Regions from separate parts of the Homo sapiens genome. Here region 1 is linked to region 2. Evidence: fine-mapped expression QTL. A gene starts in region 2. The other region holds a variant in brackets. All regions are shown on one strand. Distances are from middle to middle.

Region 1 (2,897 bases), 91 kb after region 2:
GGGGTAGCGGGCAGCCTCCTCGTGCAGGTAGTGGCCAGCCTGCCTGTAGTGCAGCAAGTAAACGGTGGGTGGCTGCTGCTGCTTCTCAGCCACCTTGCCCAGCATGTAGTGGATGAGCCACTCCTCCTCGTCACCATCACCCTCGCAGCGGGCTGCTGATGTGAAACAGTGCTTGGCTGTCTCTAGCATGCTGTCGCGCCGGCCCTCCATCTGTAAGAAGATCATGAGACTGGGCTGGCCTTACGCCTGAACCTGCCCAGGGATCAGACTTTTTCCTGTACAAAGCTCTGCCGACCTATTTGCAAGTTTATACTCCTCTTAACAACCAAGACACAGAAATGCCCTCACCATTTCACAGCTGGTGACACCGAAGTGTAGAAAGGCCTAGGGGTTTCTCAAAAGCGCCCACCAAGCAAGGCATAGAGCAGGACTTAAACTCAGGTCACCCCATGTCAACCAGGGTACTTTTTTCTGCTTTCCCCCTGCAGCATCTAATGCAGATTCACCTAGCACCCTGCTCCACAGCACTGGAGAGGACATTTACTAACACTCAGCACCCAGCCCTACGGCACTGAAGAGGGCATGTATTTAGCACCCAGTTCCACTGCACAGGAGAGGGTGTGTACCCCTGGGGTACAAGAGGACTTCCCACCATCTCCTCTGTGCTCTTTAAGACAGATGTGGAGTACTTGTAGAAGGGCAAATTCCTGAGCCCCACTTAAGAGCCACTGACTGGGAGTCTGCATTTGCAGCAAGCACCTCCAGCCACCCTCTCACAGCCTGAAGGAAGGAAACAGCTAGCTAGGAAGGAAGGAAAAGAGGGTCACCTTTTAAGAGGCACTACTTTCCAATACTGGTCAGCTGCCAGCCAAATTCATGACCCCTGATTCCAGAACTCTGGGCTGGAAGCTAGAGAGAAGCCTGCATGTGCAAGCCCACAGAGCTGCTCTGAGCAGCCCAGGTCTCTGATCCCTCCTCTCTGTGGTCCTGGATTGATAGCAGGGAAGCCAAAGTCTCTTCTTGCCTGACCTCAGGGGCCAGTGAGAGGGGATGAGTCTGCAGGCACTAGTCTCTGGCAAGGGCAGCTGCTGTGGCCTGCAGGAAGTGCCTCATGTTCTCATCCAGCCAGGTTGAGCCGGCCCTTGGATGTCTCTCCAGTGGGTGCTTGTTTATGTGAAAACCCTGTAGCAATGGCCCCAGGACTGAAATAAGGGAGCAATGTGCTACCCAGTGCTCTGTTAGACACTTCTCAGGAAAAAAAAAAAAAAAAAAAA[AT/T]GACCACACAGGAAGTGGGAGATCATCAATGGGTGAAATACAGTGGAAAGCATCACAGTGCAGGGTCAAACACGGGACCAACCAAGTGACTCCATCACATCCCCTTCAAGATGGGATTCTGTGGCAAATGTGCTGAAGTAAAAGGCAATGGCTAAAAGGATGTCCTTCTACTTGAATTGCTTTGTAGCTGTGTGACCTGGACCAAGTCACTAGCCCCCCTGCCCACCCTGTTCTGCCACTGGCACCTGTAACAGCCACCTGCCAAGAAAGAAAGGGTAGCTGTGAAGTGGCCCATCTGGGCTGGCATCTGGTACCATGCAGACCCTTGGGAAGAGGCTAAGCCCCCACCCCTTCCCCATACAGGGCACAATGCCAATGTCCCTGTCCTTGTGGTGTGGAGGTCACAATACCTCAGACAGGAAAAGGAGGGACAGTCACTGAGGGCCTGCTGTGTTTCAGAAGCTCTACTAGACACCATCTCACTACCTTGCCATCCTCAGAGCAGAATAGGCACCTCATTCACCTTGCATATGGGGTGCCCATGAGAGGGGCTCAGGAAATGGCTGATGGCAGGTGTTCCCAATGAACTCTCACAATACTGCCTTGGAGAAGGAACCACAACAGGAATGTCAGGTTACTGCTTCCAGGTCATACAGCTAGAACGCTCTGGCTCCAAAGCCTTTCCCCTTGCCTGAGAACTGACATCATGGGGAAAGCATTTGTTCTCCTACACCACCACCTCTGAGGAGTTTCTGGGCAAAAGCTGAAGCACACAGCAGCTCGAACAGCTGCCAACATGTGTCCTGCAGCCCATCCTCCAGACACAATAAATCCAGACAGAAAAGTAGCAATCAGGGGACTGTGTCCTCGTGACACATTTCAGGGTTGGAAGCTGTCTCTCCAGAGGTGGAAAAAACCCAGGAGGCACAAGGCAGCTCTGCAAGGTAGTTTTCACCCTCGGCAACTATGAAACACCTCCCCCTACCTTCCCTCCCTCCCTGTCGGGACATCTGCATTCCTGGTGGATTTCCATCTCTCTCCTGCCACCCTAACACTCCAACAAGATGGCTTGGGAACCCAGTTTCAGGACCTGAGCTTCCTGGGCCAATGGCTTCCATAAGATCAACACTGAGTTCAGTCCCAAAGGTTATGAGCCTAAGTAGAGGAAAGAACAAAGCAAAGGGAAAAAGTATGTGGAAACTTGAGCTCAGTCTCCTTACCCACTCCCTGACTTCCCTGCTCCCTTCCTGGGGGAACCTCTACAAACAAAGCTCTACAAACAAGTGCCAATGGCAGAAAGGGAACTCTGACTTCTCACCCTATTTATTTCCTGGAAAACTCCCACTCTGCCAAATCTCATTTGCCATCATTGGTGGGAGATTAGGGAGAAAATCCCAAGAACCATGATCAGCTCAGCCCACTGAGCCCCAGCAGAGGATAATGGTGCTCCTGCTGTTACAAGGAAGGCCTCTTGGGGAGTCAGGCTCTGCATCCTAGGGCAGCAGCTTCAGTCCCCAGCCTGCCCAACTCTGGGGCCACTGCAACACAAACAGAATCCCGCAAGGGACTTTAGTGCAGAACAGTTACAATAAAATAGGGTTACAGCAGTTAAAAGGAATGTA
Region 2 (2,897 bases):
ATCCCCAGGAGAACGCTGGCCAGGAACTGCACAGGCCACCAGGTGGACACAGTAGAAAGCCACAGGGCCCGTGGGGATGGGATGAATCTTAGCACAGACCATCTGGCTGTTGCCCTGACTGACGGGCTAGAATGCAGCGAGAAGAGGCAAAAAGCTGCATCCGCTCAGCCCTGCAGGGTCAGGAGAAGCCCCTGGGCATGACTGCCCTTCAGCCACCAAGTCCTCTATCCCACAGGCAGGGGTCCTCAGTGGGCCACGGTAGCTGGAGCCCTCGACCTCTCTTGGCTCCCCAGGGTGTCTGTGGTCAGCACGCCTTCTGGGGGCCCTGAAGCCTGCAGAAGAACCCCTCTTGCTTGCCTGGACTGGGGTGGGGGATATGGCTGCCAAGAGTCTCATTTGAGGCCTGGTAGGGAATGGTGCAGGGTCTGAACGTGACACTTCTCGCTCTCCCAGGGGCTGCAATTGAGACCCCAAAGAGAGCTCCGTGCTCAGGGCAGAAGGCCAGGGCCGCTCCCCTCCTTTCTGGGGAGAGGAGGGACATTTCAAGCAGGGGTCCCAGCAGTGGGGAAAGGGAAGTGGGGGTGCACACCACAAGGGGCTGTGGGCGCCGGGCCCAAAACTTCTCCTATGGGCCATAAGACCGGTGGGCAAGGCCATATTTCCAGGGGCTGGCATGAAGGAAGGGTTGCAGGGAGGGACTGGGGCAGGTGCATGCACCCAGGCTGGAATTGCACTTCCCTGGCCCTTCCCCATCCCCCATCAAAAGAGGCCAGTCGAGGGCCAGGCCTGGGCCTGAGCCACCCCGCTGGCCCCACTTCACCAAGTGCAGTGCCTGGCACTTAAAAGCAACAATAAATATGTACTGGCCAAGGATTTGGTGGCGCACAGGGGTCGGGGGAGGAGGCCGAGAGATGCTTGCAAGTGAGATAAGTGGCAAGAGGGTCGATGGGAAATGGGGTGGGGGACGGGGGGCAGCCTGGGACCAGTGTCCTGGTTCTGGAGTTCGGGGCTTTCCCTAGACTTTCCTGGATTCAGCCCCACCCTGATGAGGACCCACAATCCTGGCTCCCCCTCCGTGATCCCGCCCTGTCAGGGCTGGGGACACAGGCGGAGGCCTCTGCTGGTCTCCCCCGCCTCCCTCCTAGCTACCAGCAGGTTTAGGGTGGGCCCGGCTCAGACCTCCCATCCCCATGGGCTGCCCCTCCACATGGACCCTCAGAATTTCTTCCCATCACCCCTAGCACAGCCACAGATGGCCTGACAGATGGACAGAGGCTGAGCCCAGAGGGATGTCAGCCCAGGCCTGGCTGCAGACAGATGGACAGACAGACGGGGACACAGAAGGGCAGGGAGGCATACCTGCTGTGGGTCCGGGGCCCGGGCCGAGGGCTGTCGCCAGCAGCAGCAGGGCCCAGGGCAGGAGGGCTGGCTTCATGGTGCAGCCTGTGTCTGCAGCCAGCAGTGCAGTGGCTCCGAGGCGAGGCGGCCAGACAAGCTCACTCCCTGCTGGCCTGGCCCCGCCCGCCCTGCACTCTGCGGCACCGCCCCGCCCCGCCCCTCCCCGCCCCTCCCCACCCAGTCCCCTCTCAAAGTCCACAGGTGCCTGCGTGGACCAGCAAGGCCCAAGTTGCCCCGTTAGCACATTCCTGGCCCGCAGGCCTGGATCGGCCCTGGGACCCTGTGGGAGGGTGAGGAGGCCGGAGCCTCCAGCCACAGGACCTTTGGCAGGCGATGAGCCGGATGTCCAGAGGGCGAAGCTCAGACCCTGGGTCCCAGCCCCGCCTTGCATGCAGGGCGAGCCCGGCGGGGCTGAAGCAGAGGATGGGATGCGCAGGGTGAATAAGGCAGGGCTGTTTTAGCTCCAGGGAGGATTCCAGACTCTGTGGCCCTGACATAGACCTCCATCTCTAGCCCTCATCTTCCTGCAGGAAGGAGGTGCACCCAACTCATCCTCAGGGGGAGGCAGGAGCTGTTTGGGTCAGACACAGGCTGAGCCCTGGGGCGGAGGCAGCTCTGCAGGGGTCCCCTCTGGAGGGAGGAAGGAGGAAGGGGAGAGAAGGTACCCAAGCCCAGCGGGGGGCCCGGAAGGGAGACAGGGCCCATCCCCGGGCTCCAGAGATGCCACCACCCTGGGGAGCCTTGGCTGTCCCAGCCACACCTAATCCTGCCGCTAAGAGTTTGCATAATTTAATCAGTATTCACCTCCCTTCTTGAGCAGATGAGGAAACTGAAGCTCAGATGCGGATAGGCAAGGCCGAGCCAGGCCCTTGGTGGCTTCTGGGAGCCCCTGCAGCCAGGGCGGGTGGTAAGGGCTGCGGCCTGGGACTGGTCATTTGGACCCTGACACCTGGGCTGGACATCCAGACAGGCGGGTGGTCCTCTCCCAGCTGCAGCTTCTCAAGGTGTCCAAAAGGGACCCTTGCCACACTTGCAGGGAGTCAGAGGTGGCCCCAGGGCATGAGCTTAGGCCATCCGGTCTGTGATCTGCCCCAGCGCTTGCGGCCAGGCCAGCCCATTGTTCCCCGGCCTGTTCTCTCTCTTGCCTGGGTGGTGCCTGCTGGGAACCACAGGGTGTTGGCAGCCACCCGTGGCTCCAGAGAGGTGGCCCCTACTGAAAGTGTTAGAGGCGTGTGCTGGGGGACTTGGCTCCTGAGTCCCCACACAGAGCTGTTCCAGGGAAGCCACACCCGCATTTGATGTTTTCCCACCTCCCAAAGACATTTGGTGAGAGGCCCCCAAGACCTTCAGCTTCTCAGGGACTGTCTCCAGAGGGGAGAAAGTCCCTTAACCCACAATGGCGCTCAGGGCACCTCTGCAGGTGAGTGTCCTGTAAGTGGACGCTCAGGTGCTGAGCCAGGGAGAGCCTGTCTCCTGGCCCCAGGCTGGCGAGGGCATTC

Direction of the effects. Alleles are on the strand shown, and positions count from the first base shown. SD is a standard deviation of normalised expression in the study named.
As copies of T replace AT in region 1, the expression in Th2 cells of the gene that starts at base 1,468 in region 2 goes up (large effect, 0.92 SD a copy in Schmiedel 2018).

The links.
Region 1: its variant is fine-mapped to the expression of SUSD2 in Th2 cells (Schmiedel 2018, PIP 0.95).

The regions. Positions count from the first base shown.
Region 1 is chr22:24,088,896-24,091,792 of GRCh38, reverse strand. It overlaps CABIN1 (calcineurin binding protein 1), which reads right to left. Exons shown (of 37, transcript NM_012295.4): 24 at 1-210. Among named protein-coding and RNA genes, the nearest start is that of CABIN1, 79 kb to the right of the region's middle. RefSeq lists enhancers at 1-16, 17-518. The variant AT/T (reference allele first, on the strand shown) is at 1,275.
Region 2 is chr22:24,180,058-24,182,954 of GRCh38, reverse strand. It overlaps SUSD2 (sushi domain containing 2), which reads right to left and starts at 1,468. Exons shown (of 15, transcript NM_019601.4): 1 at 1,360-1,468. The coding sequence starts at 1,435.